2 separate regions of the Homo sapiens genome follow, and region 2 is linked to region 1. The links come from fine-mapping of genetic effects on plasma protein levels. Region 1 holds a variant in brackets. A gene starts in the other region. All regions are shown on their reverse strands. Region 1 holds the start of NRG4 (neuregulin 4). Region 2 holds the start of UMOD (uromodulin).

What was found. A credible set is the group of variants that fine-mapping cannot tell apart. PIP is the posterior inclusion probability: the model's chance that the variant is causal. The UK Biobank Pharma Proteomics Project read protein levels with antibody pairs (Olink). The fine-mapping took linkage between variants from a reference panel, not from the people measured, so its PIPs are less certain.
Region 2: UMOD starts here. The variant in region 1 is the best candidate, but not a certain one, in a credible set for the plasma level of the UMOD protein (UK Biobank, PIP 0.59).

Annotation. Positions count from the first base shown.
Region 1 is chr15:76,007,685-76,016,029 of GRCh38, reverse strand. NRG4 (neuregulin 4) reads left to right here and starts at 3,606. Exons shown (of 6, transcript NM_138573.4): 1 at 3,606-3,711; 2 at 4,744-4,809; 3 at 6,737-6,830. The coding sequence starts at 4,800. The variant T/C (reference allele first, on the strand shown) is at 3,868.
Region 2 is chr16:20,349,335-20,357,679 of GRCh38, reverse strand. It overlaps UMOD (uromodulin), which reads left to right and starts at 4,965. Exons shown (of 11, transcript NM_003361.4): 1 at 4,965-4,991; 2 at 6,841-7,030. The coding sequence starts at 6,943.

The sequences.
Region 1 (8,345 bases):
ACAAGTTCTGAAATTGAGGCAGTAATTAATAGCCTACCAACCAAAAAAAGTCCAGGACAAGACAGATTCACAGCCAAATTCCACCAGAGGTACCAAGAGGACCTGGTACCATTCCTTTTGAAACTATTCCAAACAATAGAAAAAGAGGGACTCCTCCCTAACTCATTTTATGAGGCCAGCATCATCCTGATACCAAAGCCTGGCAGAGATACAACAAGAAAACAAAACTTCAGGCCAACATCCCTGATGAATATCGATGTGAAAATATTCAATAAAATATTGGCAAACTGAATCCAACAGCATGTCAAAAAGCTTATCCACCACGATCAAGTCAGCTTCATCCCTGGAATGCAAGGATGATTCAACATACAGAAATCAATACCCGTAATCCATCACATAAACAGAACCAATGACAAAAACCACGTGAGTATCTCAATAGATGCAGAAAAGGCCTTTGATAAAAGTCAATACCCCTTTATGCTAAAAACTAAAAACAATAAACTAGGTATCGATGGAATGCATGTCAAAAATCATAAGAGCTATTTATGACAAACCCACAGCCAATATCATACTGAATGGGCAAAAGCTGGAAGCATTCCCTTTGAAAACCAGCACAACACAAGGATGCCCTCTCTCACCATTCCTATTCAACATAGTATTGGAGGTTCTGGCCAGGCCAATCAGGCAAGAGAAAGAAATAAAGGTTATTCAAATAGGAAGAGAGGAAGTCAAATTGTCTCTGTTTGCAGATGACATGATTGTATATTTAGAAAACCCCATCATCTCAGCCCCAAAACTCCTTAAGCTGATAGCAACTTCAGCAAAGTCTCAGGATACAAAATCAGTATGCAAAAATCACAAGCATTCCTATACACCAATAACAGACAAAGAGAGCCAAATCATGAGTGAACTCCCATTCACAACTGCTACTAAGAGAATAAAATACCTAGGAATACAACTCACAAGGGATGTGAAGGACCTCTTCAAGGAGAACTACAAACCACTGCTCAGGGAAATAAGAGAGGACACAAACAAATGGAAGAACATTCCATGCTCATGGATAGGAAGAATCAATATCTTGAAAATGGCTATACTGCCCAAAGTAATTTAGAGATTCAATGCCATCCCCATCAGGCTACCATTGACTTTCTTCACAGAATTAGAAAAATCTACTTTAAACTTTATGTGGAACCAAAAAAGAGCCTGTGTAGCCAAGACAATCCTAACCAAAAGGAACAAAGCTGGAGGCATCACGCTACCTGACTTCAAACTATACTACAAGACTACAGTAACCAAAACAGCATGGTACTGGTATCAAAACAGACATATAGACCAATGGAACAGAACAGAGGCCTCAGAAATAACTCCACCCATCTACAACCATCTGATCTTTGACAAACCTGACAAAAACAAGCAATGGGGAAAGGATTTCCTATTTAATAAATGGTGTTGGGAAAATTGGATAGCCATATGCAGAAAACTGAAACTGGACCCCTTCCTTACACCTCATATAAAAATTAATTCAAGATGGATTAAAGACATACACCTAAAACGTAAAGCCATAAAAACCCTAGAAAGAAACCTAGGCAATACCATTCAGGACACAGATATGGGCAAAGACTTCGTGACTAAAACACCAAAAGCAATGGCAACAAAAGCCAAAACTGACAAATGGGATCTAATTAAACCAAAGAGCTTCTGCACAGCAAAAGAAACTCTCGTCAGAGTAAACAGGCAACCTACAGAATGGGAGAAAATTTTTGCAATCTATTCATCTGAGAAAGGGCTAATATCCAGAATCTACAAGGAACTTAAACAAATTTACAAGAAAAAAACCAACAACCCCATCAAAAAGTGAGTGAAGGATATGAACAGACAGTCTTCAAAATAAGACATTTATGTGGCCAACAAACGTATGAAAAAAAGCTCATCATCACTGGTCATTAGAGAAATGCAAATCAAAAAGCACAATGAGATACCATCTCATGCCAGTTAGAATGGCGATCATTAAAAAGTCAGGAAACAACAGTGCTGGAGAGGATGTGAAGAAATAAGAATGCTTTTACACTATTGGTGGGAGTGTAAATTAGTTCAACCATTGTGGAAGACAGTGTGGTGATTCCCCAAGGATCTAGAACTAGAAATACCATTTGACCCAGCAATCCAATTACTGGGTATATACCCAAAGGATTATAAATCATGCTACTATAAAGACACATGCACACATATGTTTATTGCGGCACTGTTCACAATAGCAAAGACTTGGAACCAACCCAAATTCCCCTCAATGATAGACTGGATAAAGAAAATGTGGCACATATATACCGTGGAATACTATGCAGCCATAAGAAAGGATGAGCTCATGTCCTTTGCAGGGCCATGGATGAAGCTGGAAACCATCATTCTCAGCAAACTAACACAAGAACAGAAAACCAAACACCGCATGTTCTCATAGGTGGAAATTGAACAATGAGAATACATGGACACAGGGAGGAGAACATCACACACTAGGGCCTGTCGGGGTGGGGGGCTAAGGGAGGGATAACATTAGGAGAAATACCTAATGTAAATGACAGGTTGGTGGGTGCAGGAAACCAGCATGGCACTTGTATACCTATGTAACAAACCTGCATATTCTGCACATGTATCCCAGAACTTAAAGTATAATTTTAAAAATGTAATAATGAACATTTTTTTTTTTTTGAGACGGAGTCTCACTCTGTTGCCCAGGCTGGAGTGCAGTGGTGCAATCTCAGCTCACTGCAAGCTCCGCCTCCCGGGTTCACACCATTCTCCTAATGAACAGATTGTTTTTAGAGTATTTGATTTTGAGTTTATTTTAATATTTTCTTAAAACAACAAAACAAACTTATTAGTTTGGGCTTTACATCAGTCAAGTAATAATGTCTGAATTGTCGTTTTAGAAAAGATAACCATCTAAATGTTTGGCATATTTTAGATAATTATATGATGAAGAACTCTATATTCATTTAAACAAAATTACAGTTTTAGTCAATATTTTAAAATTGTTTATGATTTTTAAAACTTAACTTTCCTCACTGTATATTTAACAACTTTGCCATAGCATTCAGGCATTACACTGTCATTGGTATTAGTCAAGTTCAGTGATTTTATTCATTTCAAATTGAACTTGGTGTTACAAGTTTTATTATAGCTATTACCTTCTTTTAGCTTTATAAGTTCTTCAGGTCATTATTTATATAAATTTTATCTGGCTTGTAAGGTAACACAAACCTCATAAAACATAAATTTAAAAAAATGTTTTTTTAATTTGTGAAACACTTATCTATTAGCTCCACATTAAAATTTCTTTTCTCCCAAACTTACACTACGTCTTGAATTATTCAGACAAGCAAAGATAAGTAAGGAGTCTAAGGAATGTGGTTTGGTTTTTACCTTTAAAACGTGGACAGTAATTTGGAAGTGCAGCTTAGTTCAACTCCTTTTCTAAATAAAATTCTGCTCCATTTGCAACTCTGAACACGTAAATTGAAGGGGTGGCTCCCGTGGCCAGTGCCTGACCTCTGTGCACACCTTGGTCTGGCGTGACCTCGCCCACACTGCACACTGCAGCCATATAAATCAGATTTTTGACATGTTATAAAATGCAAGTCACAGCTGCTGTTGTCTGCGGTATTCAAAAACTTTTGAAACACTGCATGTCCAACAAAATTTATTTTTTGTGTGAATGTAAGTTTTTATTGAGGGTAAGTCCTGTTTGTTTGGAAAAAAGAAACAGTATGAGTCAGTGCTTTTTAAAAATCAAATAGATTTAATGTTCTCCTTCCTGCCTGTTCTCGCTCGTGTGTGTTTCTCTCGATTGCTTGCTCGCTTTCTCTGCCTCTC[T/C]GCTTGTCTAAGAAAGAGCTGTTGGCTTTGAGAGAAGACCTTGGTATTACAACTGTGTTAGTAGATTGAGATTTCTGTTAGAGTCTTTCTGTTTAGGTCAGAAGTGTTCTTTATAGAACAGAACTGGGAGCTTGTAATCATAATGTAAGTATAAATGCTTCACCTCTTCAAATATATGTTTGAATTCTTTTGTTTCTGTTATAGCAGGAAACTTCATATGTAAGAATGTCTTATTAGCTACATTGCTTTGCCAGATGCCAGACATTTTTGTGTGTGTGTGGGGTTAACATTTTTTTTCTTTTTTAAATTTAATTTTAAGTTCCGGGATAGATGTGCAGGACGTGCAGGTTTGTTACATAGTGTGTTTATAACATGTGTGCCATGGTGGTTTGCCGCACCTATCAGCCCTGGACATTTTTTAGAAGAAAGGTTTGCATAGGTTGGTAAATGTAATGTGCAATCTATGGTAAACTTAAAAGTGCTTTTATAAAAGTTTTAAAGGTTCAGTTCATTCAGTTTTACTTACTGTCTCATCGTTCATGTAAAATTCCATGTAGTACTCTACTATGTTAACAATGTTTACGAAAAAAAGCCTTATTAGACTTTTCTGCAGAGAGATATTTAAGATTAAATTACATTATTTAGGCAATGATTTATATTAAGTACGTTATTGATCTTTTAGTTTTGTTCATATTTTTTACTGAAATGCAATAGGTATCTAAAAATGCTGTAACTAAAATTTGTCCCTAGTATATAAATGTCTTTATTATTTTATTTTCAACATTTAAGAATATTGCTATTAGAATATTTGACATTTTATAATGCCCTTAAAAGAAGACTATTTTCCCTGAATTATTACTTTTTAAACCGTTTTAGGTACTGTTTTTCAACCCTACTCTCTTGACCAAGAATGAAACTATTTACAAATTAAGATGCCAACAGGTAATTTCTTATATATTTATATGTTTTTGTCAATATGTGTCCATAGCAATAGAACAACAATCAAAAATGTATATTAACACAAGGCTGTATTATTCCCTTCCAACATCATTGGAAGAGATGTGAATATGAAATTAATATTTCAAATATGAAATATTTGGTTTTGAGAGACCTTCCTTTGTGACATAAAGCTATTTTATTTTAGATATATGTGTTTTATTGGTTTTATAACCTGATAAATTCTAGCTTGTCCTATATCTGAAATCAGCTCAAATAATAAGGAAATAGAAGTCAGAATAAAAGTAGATTCAGAAATAATGATTCAGGTTAGATGAGTTTTCTTTATTGATAAAATAAATGCCAAGTGTTGAGATATGTCTGACTATAATCCAATTAAAACAAGGACACTAATCTTAGCTGTGATAAAGTTACATTCCACCCTCAGTGGAAAACCATATATGATGACGCCTTTGATGCTGATGTAATGTTAATTTTATTTTTTAGCCAAATTATTCCTGAAAAATTTTATAATCTTGTTGAAAGTTGTTTGATTACGAAGAAGCATGGCATTGTGTAAAAAAGAAAAAAATCTAAAAGCATTCATTTTGGTTGATTTTACTTTCTTTTTCACCAGTTCTCTGTAGTTCTGATTTCGTCTTTACATTTTTATACTCTTAGGGCTATAATGTGATGCTGAAACAGGATTTTCTCAATTCTAAAGTAGAACAAAAGTTTTAAAATTTGAAATTCTGATTGTGGAGATATCTGACTCATAGCAATTATATCTTAGCAAGTATTGATATCTTAGTGGCACATAAATGCTAGATAATTTTTAAAATTAATATACTAATTTTAATGTCAAATTGGAGTCCCAGTGGGAGAGTAATGCCATTTTCTTATTCTGATTAGATGATTCTGGGTCATTTCCTAGACAGAAACAATTAGGAACTAACAATGTACAAGTTTAAAGCAATGTAATTTCCCCTTTAAGGCTGGAAGATAAGATATTCACCAATTTTCTCTTCATAAATTACTAGTATAATGACTCAATGAATCCTTCTGTTATTCTAATTTTTTCTATACAATGGCTTTGGTGGACAGGGATTTTTTATAAAAGGTCTTGGGGGTGAGGCTAGAAGGAAGGAGAGGTACCAAGGGAGAAAGGGAAGGCAGAGAGAGAAAGATAGATAAAGGAAAGGTCATAAAGAAGGAAGATGAGGCTGAGGAAAGAGGAAAGAGAGAAAAGAAGTCAGAGAGAAGTAGAGGTTTATTTTCTTAATATTCTGAAAGATTTGGCTGTATATCAAGCTATGACTTAGCTTTTTAATTTTTCTTTGCAACTTTAGATATGCCTTATGGTTAGTAACTGTTACCTAAAACACTTTGCAAATCAACACCTTATAAGTTTATTTTTGGTTTCTGACATTTAGATTGTCATATAGGAACATTTAAAGTTAACTTTGGAAATAAAAAGTTAATTATCTAAATCCTTTACCAGCTGCAATTTCAGATATTAATGTATTTGAGACCTAATAGGGAAAACAAGAATTTAAATAAATTCTTGGGACAGGGAAATGCTAGGTAATACTGCCAAATCTCTGTAGTAAGTGAGAAAGGCCCTGTTTGTTCTAAGATGCTGATCACCTCCTTTTAATCTAACTAATATAGATATTCCTTATTTCTGTTATATAATGTCTAAACCCATTATAGTTAATGGCCATATCTTTAGGACATAATTTTTCTCTCAAAGACATAGAAGTCCCAGTCTGTCAAATAAGGAATAGAATTAAATCTTTCATTTTGAGAAAAAAAATTCTTCATTCTGATTTTCAGAATTGCTACTTCAGTTTAAGATAGTTATTCCTATTCCTTGTTGCATTAGGAAAACTTTAATTTGCTTTTCTCTATTTTATATATGTATGTGTTCTAGATCACGAAGAGCCCTGTGGTCCCAGTCACAAGTCGTTTTGCCTGAATGGGGGGCTTTGTTATGTGATACCTACTATTCCCAGCCCATTTTGTAGGTGAGTGAAATGGACTAGGGGGAGATGTTAACTTTATTTTTTATTGTCTACTAACTTCTTTGAGAAGTGATAAAAAGTAAACAAAAAGTGTAAGATGAAAAGATGTGAGGCATATTCATATTTATTTAGGGAAAATTATCCTTTTAAAACAAAACAAAAACAAAATAAAATAGCACATAAAAATCTCACTAATCAAGGTGTTTATTCTGAAAATTGCTAATGGTAGTTCCTAGCCTAGACACATTTTTAAAAAATAATCCCTTTTAGTGAACTCTTTGATTTTAGCAATTTAAGGAAGGCAGTCTATGCTTAATATTACTGGCAAAACAGCTAGGGAATTTGCTAATCAAAAAAACCTAATATGATATATTTTATTTTGAGTTTTTAGTACATAAACACATGATAACTGAGTTGGCACCAAAACTTACACTTTATATGTTAAAAAGCAAAAGAAGGGTTAAGTTTTTCTAATGGTGGTAGCAAATAAAAAAGAAGGGTATCTTAGCCACTATTGTTTTAAAATAATATAATTCACTGTGGGAGTATAGATACAGCCAGTGACCCATAAAAAACTTCAAAATAGTACTTCTGTAGCCTGATTCCTATGAGTTTGGTTGAATAGGATTTAAATGTATATAATAAACGTCTTTTAGTATATGAGTTAACATCATAGTACTGCCCTATACTGTGGAGCTAACACCCAAGATCTAAAGATATTTTGTAACACATGTGAATTACTCTTTCTTGTTCTTTAACTGAAATGAGAAGTATAGAATCTAGATTTAAGATCTAGCTACATAAAAGGATAGAAAAGTAAAATCCATAGGAAAAGTTAAAGATACTGGGATGTAGTATGGAGGAGAGGAGGCAGAGAGAAATAACCTCACAATTATCTCAAGAAGTTTTTAGGGCTTCTCATATGGGGAATAGTGCCCAGGTGTTTTTCTTCTCTAGTGAATATGAAAAGGGAAGGGAATGGAGGAACAAATTAACAATTACTTAACACTCATGATGTGCCTCAGCAGTATACTCTTCTTTTTTAATCTATTTACTGAGATATAATTTATGTATGATAAACTGCATTCATTTAAAGTGCAAAATGGATTAATTTTGACAAGTGTTTGTACCTGTGAAATCACCACCACCATCACATCTAGATATAGAACATTTCCATAGATAATCCCCCCAAATTTTGTTGCTGACTGTGCTCAACACTTAATTCTCACAAACACCTTAGAGAAAGGAGGCAGGGGAGACCTTAGAAAATAATTTTTTAAAAAAGGGGAAAATGAGAAATTAAGTGACATGCCAAAGGTCATATAGCTGGGAAGAAGAAAGGTGTCACCTTTGAATACAACTCACAAGTTTCACTTAACTTTATAATATATTCATACTGGATTCTTTCTAAGGTGATATGGCACGTAGAATGTTTAAAATAAAACAAGAATGCTTATCAGAAGAAGTACATTTAGGTTGGGCGCGGTGGCTCACACCTGTAATCCCAGCACTTTGGGA
Region 2 (8,345 bases), not on the chromosome of region 1:
GCTGTAATGGCATCTTTATTGCTTTTAGAATAAAATCTAGTCTGCCTACCATGCCTTCAACACCTTGAAAGGTCTGGCCCCACAGATCTCCTCCTCTCCCTCTCCCCCTCACATTCTAGGCCCCAGCCACACTTCCTGTCTACTCTATGAACAAGCCAAATTCACTCTCTCCTCATGTTCCCTCTGCCTAAATGCACTCCCTTCAAAATACATTTCCCCCAGTTCCTCACATAGCCATGTTCTTTTCTTGGTTCAAATCTCAGCTCACCTGTCACCACCTCCAAAAGGCATTCCTGGAGACTAAAAATTGAAAGCATCTTATTTTGTTGTGCAATGATATATTGCCTGATTCTCCAATTAATATGTAAGCTCCACGAAAGTAGATATATCTATTGTTTTTTTTCTTGCCGTATTCCCTTTGCCTAGAACTCTGCTTGACACATAGTAGATGCTCAATAAATGCTCGTGGATCAATCAAATATTCCATTTTAGGTGAGAAATACATAATTTCATAGTCATCCCAAAAGGCAGAGGTGCTGACAGTGTTGTCCCCAGATCCAAACTGGAATCTGTATTCGTTCCCTATTTTTGATCTGACAAATTAACACTTAAGTGGCTTAAAACAACACAAACTTACTCTCTTAGAGTTCTGGAGGCTAGAAATTAGAAATCAATTCCACTGGACTAAATTCACGAGTTAGTCCCTTTTGGATGAATTCCCTGCTATGCCTTTTCTAGCTTCTGGGAGGCCCCTGCATTCCTTGGTTTATGGTTCTGTCCTAGAATCACTCTGACTTTTCATTTCATCCTTACACCTACTTCCTCTGACTCCTCCTGCATCACTTTTATAGGCACCACTGTGATTGCATCCAGCCTGCCCAGACAACCTCTCCATCTCAGGATCTGTAATCACACTGCACAGTCCCTTTTGCCATAAAAGGCAACACACACAGGTTTGGGGATTCAGAGGTGAACGTATTTGGGGGTCATTATTCAGCCTACCACAGATTTAACTCATGGATTTGTGTCATTCATTTCAGCCAGGCCTTCTCTTGAGAAAAGAAGGGCAGCATTCTTTTAGAAATTGAGGTCTCTAGAAACCACCTGGGTCTCTCCACTCCTCACCTGTCATGTAAGGCAAAGGCTATTTGTGCTTTCTCATACCTCCAGAGACAGCTCCCATGCCCCTCACCCTGAACCTGGCCTGTCCACAACCAGAGGAAGCAGGGAACAGCCTGCGGCTCTGGAACTCACCTGAGCCGAATTCCCCAACAGGAGCAGGTGTTAGTATTCAGGACACGGTGTAAGGCTCACCTGCCTCGGCCTTGAGGTCATGTGGCTGCCAGTTGAAGGAGGGTTACGGGGGGCTGCCTAGACTAGATCATGTGGCATAGAGCCCCTGACAGGCCACGAGCCAGAGAATGGGTGTGCCACCTCCAGGTCCCCCAGGCGTAACTGGAGCCTCAGGAGGTGTGTGCTCAGAGAGGTAGGTGGGACAGGTAATACCCCTCTTTTGGGGGATCTTCTCCCTTGGCTCATTTTTTGCCGCTTTCTGACACACACCAACCTCTCATTCTAAGTTTTTGTGTTCTGTTTGATCAATTTTTCAAAACTCTCCACCCTTTAGTTTCACTCTTTCCAAAACTACCTAAAACCACTTATCCTTCTAAGACCCTGTCATGGCTGAGCATGGAATGTTCTGTAACCCAAGGAATGCAGGTAAATCTGAGTGAGATTTGAGTTTTAGTCTGGATTTAACACTCGCTAGCTGTGTAATCTTGGGGGAGTTACTCCACCTCTCTGAACTTGTCTTCTTCCCTGTGACGTGGGTTGTTGTGTTTCATTGTTTGAGACAATGGAGGCAAAAGCACTGAGCACAGTGTCTGACCCAAGAGAAGTGCTCAGTGGGTGATTGTTCTCAGCATTATTAAGATCAAGTCTCCTACCCATGTTTGAAAGTTAAGAGAGAAAAGTGTTTCAGGCTGGTTGTGGTGGCTCATGTCTGTAATCCCAGCACTTTGGGAGGCCGAGGCAGGCAGATTACCTGAGGTCAGGAGTTCGAGACCAGCCTGGCCAATGTGTACAAAAAAAACACAAATTAGCCGGGCATGGTGGTATGCACCTGTAATCCCAGCTACTCGGGAGGCTGAGGATTCAAGGATTCAAGAGAATCACTTGAACTTGGGAGGTGGAGGTTGCAGTGAGCCAAGACTGAGCCACTGCACTCCAACCTGGGTGACAGAGCAAGACTCCATTAAAAAAAAAAAAAAGAAGAAGAAAAAGAAAGAAAGAAAGAAGAGTGTTTCAAGAGCGAAGTGCTGAGAGATTAAGGTTCGTTCAAAAACAAATATTTATTGTGCACTGTCCTAGAGGTAAGATAAAGAGAAAAATATTGATTGAATTTGGTAACATGGATGTCTTTGGTGAACTTGATGAGCAACAGAGCAGGAAATTATGGCCACTGACAACTTGTTATACTCACAGATCCCAAGAGAAGGGGACACACCACACTGGGCAGAGGGGCTGAAGGGAGAGGAAGAGCTGCTGGGAAGTACCAGGGTCGGTCAGGAAGCAAAGAGAGCAAGGGAAAAGGCAGGAAAGAGCCTTTATTGTAGTTTCTGCAGGAAGGAATGGGAGAGGCAAGGTAAGCAGATTTAGGATTGGCTTAGTTTGAATAATTTCAGAGACCTCTGGGCCATAGGAGTTGTCTCTAGTTGTCTGGTACCTGGTCCCTTGGGGTGATCTAAAGCAGCAAGTAGTGACCCTAAGTGTAAAAGCCCCAAAAAGGAGGCCAAGGGTTGGGGGTATGTGGTCTGGATTGATTGATTTGCAGTCGGAAAGGCACATTCACAGATAAGTCGTTTTTGATCTCTAGTAATTATTGAGCCCTGGGAGGGGCAGTCCCTCCATGATCAGTAAGGCCCCAAAATGTACAAGCACCAAATACAGAAACTAGAAAGCATGGTGATTACACTTATGAATAGATTCCAACCCAAACTCCCCATTTTCCTGCCCAAGTCTTTGTCAAGAAAACTCCAGAAGCCACCTGGGGTCACTGTCTTTAATCCTTTGAAGACACCCATAATAAGGTTTAGACAAGGCCTCATGAAAAAGGTATAGGATAAAAACGACTAGTTCAGAAAAAAAAAAGTAAATAAATGAAGAGATAACTTCCCTTTTCATCAAAGAATTGCAAAAATGAACAATAATGAGATCGTTTCCACTTATCCTTTTGGCAAAGATGAAAGCAAGTTACCAATGCTCAGAACTGGTGAGTAGTGTTGGTGGGATTGTAAACCAATTTATAATAATTCTCTGGGGTGCTGTTTGGGAAGAGGAGTCAATATTCCTACAGCTGTGCTACCTCTTTGACCCAGAATTTCCACTCCTTGGACATAATCCTGAGGAGATGACAACACCAGTGCCAGTGGTTACCCTACCACTGAGTGGGACAGGATGGAGAAATGTCCTGAAAAGAGCAATTCACAATAGCAAAGACTTGGAACCAACTCAAATGTCCATCAATGATAGACTGGATTAAGAAAATGTGGCACATATACACCGTGGAATACTATGCAGCCATAAAAAATATGAGTTCATGTCCTTTGTAGGGACATGGATGAAGATGGAAACCATCATTCTCAGCAAACTATCGCAAGGACAAAAAACCAAACACCGCATGTTCTCACTCACAGGTGGGAATTGAACAATGAGAGCACTTGGACACAGGAAGGGGAACATCACACCCAGGGGCCTATTGTGGGATGCGGGGAGCGGGGAGGGATAGCATTAGGAGTTATACCTAATGTAAATGACAAGTTAATGGGTGCAGCACATCAACATGGCACATGTATACATATGTAACAAACCTGCACGTTGTGCACTTGTACCCTAAAACTTAAAGTATAAAAAAAAAAAAGATCAATGCAGTGATCATGGTGATATTTTCCTGCTCAGCCCAAGTTCACACATATTTTATTTTTCTCAACATGATGACAGCCACTCTCACACTGACTTTTGGAATGTCATGTATGTTGAACTGGGTCTGAAGACATGGTTTTAACTCAGGCTCTGTCATTTTCTACCTCAGTGATTGCACAACAGCAAAGCAGAATTTTCACTACTTCCATGAATATAATCATTACTATATGACTTTACTTGCATCATCTCCTTTGGTTACTATTACTACTGTGGGAGATGGGTATTCTCATTTTATAGACAAGGAAATTGACCTCTGGACCTCAGGAAGGTTAAGAAATGAGCCCACTGCCACACAATAAACACCAGATAAAGGAGGCAGACTGACTCCAAAGTCAGTCTATTTAAGTGCAAATTTATTTCGCCTCCAAAGGGACCTCCCAGTCATCAGACCTGATTCTTTGTTGTACAGAGTGGGTCAGGTCCAGTGATGTCTGAACTACCTTCTGGTTCTGACTTTCAGCCATTCTCAGCTCCTCTCTTGCTTGTGTCTGGATTCTAAGGCTGATCTCATGAGAATGGGTGTTTCAGAAGGGTGCCCTCTCCAAGACAGGTGCACCTCCCATCTGGGGCAGTGAATATCCCTTTTGTCCTTATGCAGCCTGGCTTCAGATACTGGCTTCTGCCTGGCTCCTTGATCCCACCCTGCCCTTGTCAGTGACCAAGAAGAAGCCCAGCACCTTGGCACTGCTTTCCCAGTTAATTTCTAACTATGGAATCTCTTGCTGTTAGAAGGTGCGAAACAGTGACCTTGTATTTCCGGGCACAGGTGTGACCCCCCAATGTCAATCATTTGGGGTCTCTAGCTATTAGGAAAAAGAACAACAACAACCTCACAGCTTGGACAAGGCAAACATTATGCCAGGAGGAAAAAATATTCCACCCCCAAGAAAACAATATCAAAAAACAGAACTAGAGACTAATTGGAGGAGAGATTGCCAGCCTGGGGCAAATGTGTATATATAAGTATGAGGCACATCATGACCAGACTAACTCTACCTTTCTGGCTTCAGGTAAGGCTATCTGTAGCTGTCTTCTCCTAGCCCAGCTTCTCCCCATCCTATTTGAGGGAGGTAGGAGAGGAAATTAAGACCTTGGACACTGGGGTCAGACCTGGATTTGAGTCATTATTCTGCCAATTATTGGCTTCATGATCTTTAGTAAGTTAGTTTTCCTCTCTTTGATCCTCTCTGTCCTAGTAACAATGACTACTATTTTTTGACTTATTCCATGAATATTAGTTATGCACCTATTATGTGCCAGGTACCAGGGTTACAACAATGAACAACTTGCTATGTGCTGGGCCCTGCTCGACATATGTCATCTTAGTTAATCCCAGTGACAATATGCAGTGTTTTAGGTCGCATCTTATTAGCGGGTCATAAAATCATTCCTTTTGTGGGTTATATCCAGGGACTTCTTTTAATTAAATATAATAGAATATGTCAGTAAGCAATACAAATTTGAGGCAAGCAGTTAGCCTCTTTGTCCCCCTGTTTTCTCATCTGCAAACTAGGATAATACTTATCTCATAGGGTTGTGGTAAGAATTAAATCACTTAATGTAGTAAGGATATCAATTGTCTTATAAAATTTTATGTGTGTGTGCACATACATGCAGAAGCGACTGCACTAGATCATGACATAAAATGTTTTTCTTTCTTTCTGTCTTTTTTTTTTTGGGGGGGGGGGATGGACTCTCTGTCACCCAGGCAGGAGTGCAGTGGCACGATCTCAGCTCACTGCAACCTCTGCCTCCCAGGTTCAAGCAATCCTCCTGTCTCAGCCTCCCGAGTAGCTGGGATTACAGGCGCCCACCACCATGCCCGGCTAATTTTTGTATTTTTATTAGAGATGGGGTTTCACCATGCTGGCCAGGCTGGTCTCAAACTCCTGACCTTGTGATCCACCCCCTCAGTCTCCCAAAGTGTTGGGATTACAGGCATGAGCCACTGCACCTGGCAACATAAAATGTTTTTCTTTTAGTACATCATGGTCACGAAGATCTGGAAAACGTTGCTCTAGGACCCAATGCCTTTGAGCACATGAATGTCTTTGAACTGAGCCTGGCCCATCATAGATATTCAGTTTGTGAAAGCAACAATCTCCATTTCACAGACAAAAACGGAGACTTAGTAAACTGAAATACCCACATCACAGTGTTAGTGATCAGTAAAGCAGGGATTTGAACCTCAGGTGCAGGCTGCAGCTCCTACATACTTAACCAACATGCCACCCTATTTTGCTGCTATAAACACTGGGGTAATACTGGCATCCACCCTGGACTATTTTTCCAATTGGAAGAAATAGTAAGTGACCACTCCAGAAACATTTAAATGCATTGTGAAGGTTAATTACCTCTCAAGTTGCTCGTCTCAAGCCACTTCTTTACGATATGTGAGTTGCATGAAGGAGCAGACTGCCATGTTCATTGTTCTCCATGGTGACTAGCTCCCTGTTTGGCACAATGTAGCTACTCAATAGATGTTTGTTGAATGAATAAGTGATCCAGGCAAATTGAAAGTTTCCAGGCAGAGGATCAGTTAAAATCCAAAGCTGCCTTCAGTAAAGTGGTGAGTCCAGAACACTATTCCATCTGGCTACTTCCTGCTCCAAATGACTGAGTTCTTCAAAATGTGCAATGTGCTGAGAATTGGGGAGCCAAGACTGGGATGTTGGTGAGGTAAGGAGGGGGAGTACAAGGGGTAAAGTCCCAGCAAAACAAGGGCTGCAGTGTTATGCAATTTTTTAGTCCATATAAGTGACACCTCCTGGAGTTGTATACTATACAATCAAAGCACTCCTTCCAGCTGTGGGGAGGAGAGTTAGATCATGCATTTGTCCCATCCATCTCTGTTCACAGGACACCAGACATCAGAGACAGAGAGAAAAATTCAAAGGGCCAACCCGTCTTTCCTTTGGGCAGGTGCTATCTAGACCTGAAGTAGCGGGAAGAGCAGAAAGGATGGGGCAGCCATCTCTGACTTGGATGCTGATGGTGGTGGTGGCCTCTTGGTTCATCACAACTGCAGCCACTGACACCTCAGAAGCAAGTAAGTGAAAAGTGTGTGTGCGTTGTATATGTGTGTATGCACGTGTATGTGTGAATGTGTGGGGGAAGCAATGTAGCACCTGTCAGAGGTGATCTCAATCCTCCTATCGCACTTGAGACTTGCATTGTCTTCATTCTAAGTCCATTTCTTAGACTCAATATGCACAGGACTGACTTAGAAATTTTGCTAAAGTGCATATTCTGGTTCAGCAGATCTGCAGTAGGACCTGAGATGCTGAATTTTTAACAAGCTTCCAGGCGATGCTCATACTGGGGTCCCTGGAGTACACATTGAAAAGCAAGGGGCTAGAACATCTCTAAGGCCTGCAGGCCCTTTATTGGAAGTCAGAAACATACTCTATCACATAGGAGATTTGAACCCATGCAGGAGGATCCAAACACCTTCCCTTTCAACTTTAAGAGGTCATTCCATTGGGTTGAGATTTGCTGTCACCCCACTTTCATTTTCTCCCTGGAGTACGTTGGGGCACGATGAATACTATTGCGGTGTCCTGGTTAAAAGCACATATTTTGTGGTCCTGCCATCTGCGTTTTTATCCTGGTTCTACTTCTTACCAAAGGAGTAAGGGGCTTAATCCCTCTGAACCTCAGTCTCCTCATCTTTAAAATAAGGATACATAAAAAACTGACCTCACGAGGCCCTTGGGAAGTATTCAACAAGATAGTGAGTGAAAAGTGCACATCCTATTGCCTGGCATATAGTAATTGCTTAATAAACAACAGCTTCTTTTTTTTTTTAATGGTTATTTTTATTACGGAGGAACAAAGTACAACTGCCCAGCCAGGTGGAGTTGGAGGACTCCGCAGAGAGGAGGCGACACTGAGCAGGGTCCTGATGAAGATTTCACCAGCCAGGGAAGCAGAAAACATAAAATGTGCAAAGAAAGGGAGGGGCAACAGGTTCACCGTAAATCCTACCAAAGTATAGGAATTCTGCGCATTACTTTTCTGAATGTGGCTATTTTAAAAGAAGACAGCTTGAAAGCAATGCTTAACACAAAAAATGAATGGTGGAGCTGGGCGCGATTGCACGTGCCTGTGGTCCCAACTTTTTGGGAAGCTGAGGCAGGGTGCGGTGGTGGCTTGAACTCAGGGAGTAGAACGCTTGAACCCAGGAATTGGAGGCTATGGTGAGCTATGATCGCACTACTGCACTCCAGCCTGGGCGACAGAGCAAGACCCCTCTCCAAAAAAATAAATAAAGTTAAAAAATACAATGAAATAAACACAGAATGAACGGTGGAGGCTTGACATCATCAGAGGAGTTTTGTTTCTTTGCTTCTTTCCTTGTTTTG